Regions from separate parts of the Homo sapiens genome. Here region 2 is linked to region 1. The links come from fine-mapping of genetic effects on gene expression. A gene starts in region 1. The other region holds a variant in brackets. All regions are shown on one strand. Distances are between the middles of the regions. Region 1 holds the start of FSBP (fibrinogen silencer binding protein). Region 2 has its middle 79 kb from the start of FSBP.

The links. PIP is the estimated chance that this variant, and not a neighbour inherited with it, causes the effect.
Region 2: its variant is fine-mapped to the expression of FSBP in subcutaneous fat (GTEx, PIP 0.98).

What each region holds. Positions count from the first base shown.
Region 1 is chr8:94,435,115-94,438,038 of GRCh38, forward strand. It overlaps FSBP (fibrinogen silencer binding protein), which reads right to left and starts at 1,830. Exons shown (of 2, transcript NM_001256141.2): 1 at 1,381-1,830. The coding sequence starts at 1,754. All of the region lies in intron 3 of RAD54B (RAD54 homolog B), which reads right to left. RefSeq lists an enhancer at 1-186.
Region 2 is chr8:94,356,014-94,358,937 of GRCh38, forward strand. No RefSeq gene overlaps it. Among named protein-coding and RNA genes, the nearest start is that of FSBP, 79 kb to the right of the region's middle. The variant T/C (reference allele first, on the strand shown) is at 1,314.

The sequences.
Region 1 (2,924 bases):
GTTCAAGGGAGAGAAAATTCTGCATAAGTAGCACAGTATAAAACAATTTTACTGCGTAGTTTTCTGGATATCTAGCTATTGGGATTTCATCATTTGTCATCACAGTGAACATTTTAACCAGTGGCCCCAAGAATTAATCCACTGTGTATTCATGTCCTGGATTCCCACTGGTGATATTTTTTTTACTGTGCTATCAAGTAGAAATAAGCAGTATCTGGTAAGAAGCTAGGCTCAAAAATACTTTCCTAGTAAATTACCAAAATAACATATGCACTTGGCTACAAAGTGGTTTTTTTCTGCTTCTCTCCTAATTTCAAAGGGATTTCATAGTAATCAATAATTTGCTTATATAATGCCTCTTCCACCAATAGAAAAGCACATTGTGTAAAGCTTTGTTTGAAAGGCTCCTCAAACTAACAAGGAGTTTACAATTTGTTTAAATTACCCTAAATGGTTCAGAATAAGAATGTAGCTGCCATTTTTATATTTTGCCAGAGGTTACAATCTGAATTAGTGGCAAGATAATACTTTTGAAAATTCCAAGGCAAATAGTTACATAGAAGACAAGTTTAACCAAAAAATTGCTTCTAACTCTAAAAAAACCCAGTTGCTCTTAGGGGTATTTTAAAATTCATAATTTGATATCCTTGCAAAGCAGTAAGAGAAAGCTTACTCTTTCCTATACGACCCAAGATCAAAGTGAAACTAGACTATTAAGGAATAAAAACAACAACAACAAAAAACTTTTAATTTTATTAAGTAAACTGAATCCCTAATTAGGCATTAACTCCCTTTAGTTGTGTTCATCTTTATTTTAAACGTGTTAGAAAAATAATTTAAACTGTCTTCATATACACAATCATGCCATTAACAAGTTTACTTATTGATTTTGTTTATATTTGTTAGTTAACATATATTCAATAAGTGTAGACAATGACAATTCATAAAAAAGCAAGGTTCCATTTCTCTAGAAACTGCTAACTTTATATAAATTTTATATAAAATTGAAAATTCCAGTGAAATGTAATCTTAAATGAGAAAAAAAGTATCTCTCAGAAGCAAACTAAATAATTTAATTTTAAAGCTTAAGAAGTTTATGAAGTGATGTCACAAATTTCAACCCACTTATTCCTCCCTAACCTTTACTTTTAGAAACTACAGGAGGGAAGGGGGAGGGGAAGACAGTAAAAAGTAGCTTAAATGCAACAGAAAAATTCCTCATAGCCTCACTTTTCTCTTTTTAAAAAATGCAAAACAAAGACACTATTCATTGCTCCCGTTGTGGGGATGCTTACTATGCATATCTCTATCACGACTAAGCCAAAGCCCAATAGATAGGAGGCGCCATAATTTTCCATAACAAAACAAAATAAAGCTTACCTTTGTATGTGGTTCCTGTCTCTTACCAGGCAAAAACTGGAAATCTGGGGAATCATCTCCATAACTTTCTTGGTTGGCTCAGAAATATTGCTTTTAAAATCTGATTGGGTCTCTTTTTGCTGCAATAGCTCCTGTTTGGCATATTCTTTGAGCCTTTTATAAAGGGTGCGTAGGCCCTGTGCTGTTCGAGGAGGGCGGTCTACTCCAATTGCATTATAGTTAACTGCTATGATATCCCAACATCTATTCTTTTCTACTATTACTGAATGTTTATTAGTGTGTTCTTCGAGAATTTTCACATATGGCTTCACAAGCTTTAGCAAATCAAGCTTTTCGGATAAGGTAAAATTGGAAGATCTAGCCTTTCCTACCATTGTTCTTTTCAAATTAAGTAGGCAGTTTCTGAAACCACCATGCAGCCTTCAGCTCTGCTCAGCTCTTTTCACAAACAGAAAAAGATCAGGCTTAACTAGGCTAGCCTCATTTAGGCCCACGCCTACAGGGGAGGGTTTATTAAAATTCCTCCAGCTTAAGCTGACGCAGGTTCAGGAAATCTGCTTAAGCCAAGCCTGACCTACATAAAGCTTCTCACTGAAGAAGACAGGAAGGCACAAGCAAAACACACTTGTGTATAAAGGGAACAGCTCGAGACAGGATTTAATACACAAAGGTCTAGAGATAAGCATGGAACACAGCTAAAAATTAGCTAATTTAGTGAGAATATCAAATTTCACACATGTATGCCTAGCTGACAGACTGAACTGCATTGCAGTATCACTTTAATAAAAACAAAAGAGGAACTGTTTTGTGCTATTTATTTACAAATCCAGTAGACAGAAAACTAAAAGATATGAGTAGTGAATGTAGTAATTCCTAACAGAGCCTCTCATCACTGTTTCTGAGCTGAGTGTTCTCCCTTACAAAATCTGCATAATGCTGGATCTGCTGTCAATCAGGAATTGCATATCCTCTAGCTAGTTAGGTTACACCCAGACCCAGACTCCACAGTAAAGCTAAGCTTCTCCTTCATTTTACAGTCTACATTAGCCTCTGCATATTTTTTTCACTTAAGAAAAAATTTTTATAGAACACTCAATCTAAAAAGCAGGTAAAAATCATGTTTTTAAAGCAATGGATTATTCTAGCCGTAATGTATGTGAATTTGCTAGCCTGCCTTATCATGTGTAAAAAATCACTGTTCATGGTGAGAAACAGTATAATCACGCCTTAAGACTCCACATACAAAATCACATTTGCTATTATAATAGAGCCAGATTTTTTATTTAGCTATATTCACACAGTTTGGACTATGAAAGGAAACAGCTAGTCTAGCCATTTTCAAGGCCACCAGTTTCGGTGCTTAGAATATATTTGTTAACCCCAGTATGAAAATATATGATACATAATAATGTAAGCAAGACAAACCTATTTTCTCACAATATACATATTTTTCCAGATAGGGGAATAAATTAGAACATACTTGAACATAGTTCTATCCAATAAAACTATTACTGAACAACTGTGATAGTTATTAAGAGGTAGGA
Region 2 (2,924 bases), 79 kb before region 1:
CTGTAATATCAGCACTTTGGGACGCCAAGGTGGGAGGATTGCTTGAGACCAAAAGTTGGAGACCAACCTGGGCAACAAAGTGAGACCTTGTTTCTTAAAGAAAAAGAACAAAACAAACCAAAAAACCCACAAAAACACAAATAGTACAGTTAATGGTTAGGAAGGCTACTCTGAGGAGGTGATGACTGAGCACCTAGATGTAAACTAATTAAGGAAGCCAGTGATGTTTAGGAATGTTTTCTTCTACATGAAAACAACACAACATTTCCTAGAAACATAAAAGAAGACATAAATATCTAGGGAGACATTCCATATTCCTGGATGAATACTCTAAATTATCTCATTTTTTTCTCAAAATTAATTGACAAAATAATTCTAAGATTAATCCAGAAAAATAACTGATATAGAGTAACCAACAAAATACTGAAAAAGAAGGATACTACAGAGGAATTTGATCTCCTAAATAATAATAAATCTTGAAATCCATATTAATTAAAATACTGTTCAAGAACAGAAAAATCAATAGGGAAAGAATGGATTATTTAAGTGTTATTACAATTGGGCAACCGTTTTCTAAAATTTAGATTCCTAACTCATTCCTCACACCAAAATTATAGATGGCAGAACCTGCAGAAATGAAAATAAGCATCTCTGAATTTCGGCGTTTTTTAAAAAACCTAGAACATCGTAAGTTCTCAAACACTGTATGGCAAATGAATTAATAAATGAATGAGATGAGACATAGAGCCCCTTACTGAGGAAATGAAAGGAGTTACCTTGCATTTTGTTATTTGTTTAATTCACTCGTTTATCCATTTAATTCACCTATATCGAGCACCCACTTGGTGCCGTCAACATCTCAAGATATAGGAATGACTGAAGTCTCAACATGTCCAGGAAGGTCGATCATATTTCTCACAATAAAGGGCTCCACCCAGGTCCAACTTTCAAGCAGATCCCCTTTTACCTAAAAGGTACTTAGCATTCTGGAAGCCTCAGTATTTGTTCCTTCCATTACAGGAACCCAGATGTAGTCTGCTCACAGTACTAACGAAAAGAGTGGATCTTCTAATTCATCTTCCTCAGCAGCACAAACTCTTCCCACCCTAGGAGCAGAAACCAGGCTGAGATGTATGGAAGCCTCCAGTACTAAGCTACCCAGACAGAAAGCAACATCCAGGTCAAAGCATCACTGTCCGACCACATGACCCTTCTACACCTGGGCCCCGAAGGCACTGCTAGGAGTCAACAGCTCCACCTGGTGACCAGAGGCTGGCCTTCATCAAAGGCTCAGGCACTGCAGCAGTTGAGAA[T/C]TTCTCTTTATGGGTATTTCCTCAGGCATAAATACAGTAACTAAAACATATGTTTTCATTGTCTGCTACTTATGGAATAAACATTAATGTTTTGTGTTTTCAAAGCTATTTAAGTCAAAAAAATCCTTTAATAATGTTTATGGAGAACTGAAAAATTGTTACTGGAGGTCTCACAAAAAAAATCACAGTGAAAAAACAAATAATTCTGTGCAAAAGTCTGTTTATTAAACCTATATTCATCTTACAACAAAATCAGAAGTTAATAACTAAGGTGTCACTGATTTCAAGACTATTTCCATCAAACTTTAAAGTTTGCTCATTTTTCATTTAATTAATAATTTAATACCCACCCCCCTACCAACACGACCCATGGGGAGACAATAAGTGTAAAGCTCTGACAATATAAAATGCTGTGGAAAATAATCCTGTCAGTCATATTGATAGCTAGAATGATTTGCCAGTTTTTATAGCCATCATAACAGCAGCCTGTGATTTGAAATCTCATAAAACAGGAAGCTGTGTGCTTAAAGACATGCCTGGAATTCCTGATGTGATGGGAGACAATTGTTGTGATCTGTTGCTGCCACCAGCAGGCCATTCTCACAAAATGGTATTTTCCCCTTTGCTTTTTGTTTCCAACTTACCTACTGATATTTCTTGACCACCACATTCTTTAATCAGGATAAATAATTAGATAAAAAAACAAATCTTTTTCATGGGTATCCTCAGTAACAATCACTTCTTTAAAATCTACCATATATAACCTTTTTAAAATTTATTTAACAAACAGGCCTAATCTTTCTGCTTATCTTTTATTCCTTTTTTTTTTCATAAGCTCCTAAATCCTTGCATTTTTTAAATCAGGTTCCTGGTAAATATATCTTAATATGAGAACAAGTGATCCTGGCATAAAAGGTAGAAGCCCACAGTTCATCACACTGATGACTGCTATAAGATATTCCTTAAATTTTCATTTAGCTGGCGAATTTAAGGCTGGTGCATACAAACAAGTTCTATAGCCACATCAACCTGGGATCAGATCCAGCTTCTTAGCATTGTGCTCTTGGGAAGCATTTAACCTTTCTAGGCATCAGTATCCTCCCTGTAAAATGAGGATAATAATAATACCCATGTCTTAGGATTGACAAGAGGAATAAATGAAATAATGCATATAAAGCATTTAGCAAAATGTCTGGCACATAGTAAGCCATCAATGAATGACTCATTATTATTATTAAAGTGTAAAAATTAAGACTTCCATACAATCAGAAGCCAAATCAATGGGAGAGTTCTGACTAGAACCTCCAAATCTGCTGATTCCAAGCCAAGGGCTTTGAACATCGTATTGCAATGATGCTTTCTATTTATCTAATTAAGATGAAGACTCTGGTTCTTTTGGGATAGGCCAAGATTGCTGAAAACATCACTTTTCAAATATGAAGTCCTTTTTAAGCCCAGAATTAGACAAACCATTAGGTTCCACTGGACGTCCCTCCTACATCTGAAAACAGCTTTCTCCCCCTTGGATGACAGAAGTGGTATTTTTATGGTAATATTTCTCATAAGAAGCAAGTACATGAGATTCCTCTTTAAGCTCTGAAATTTCTTTCT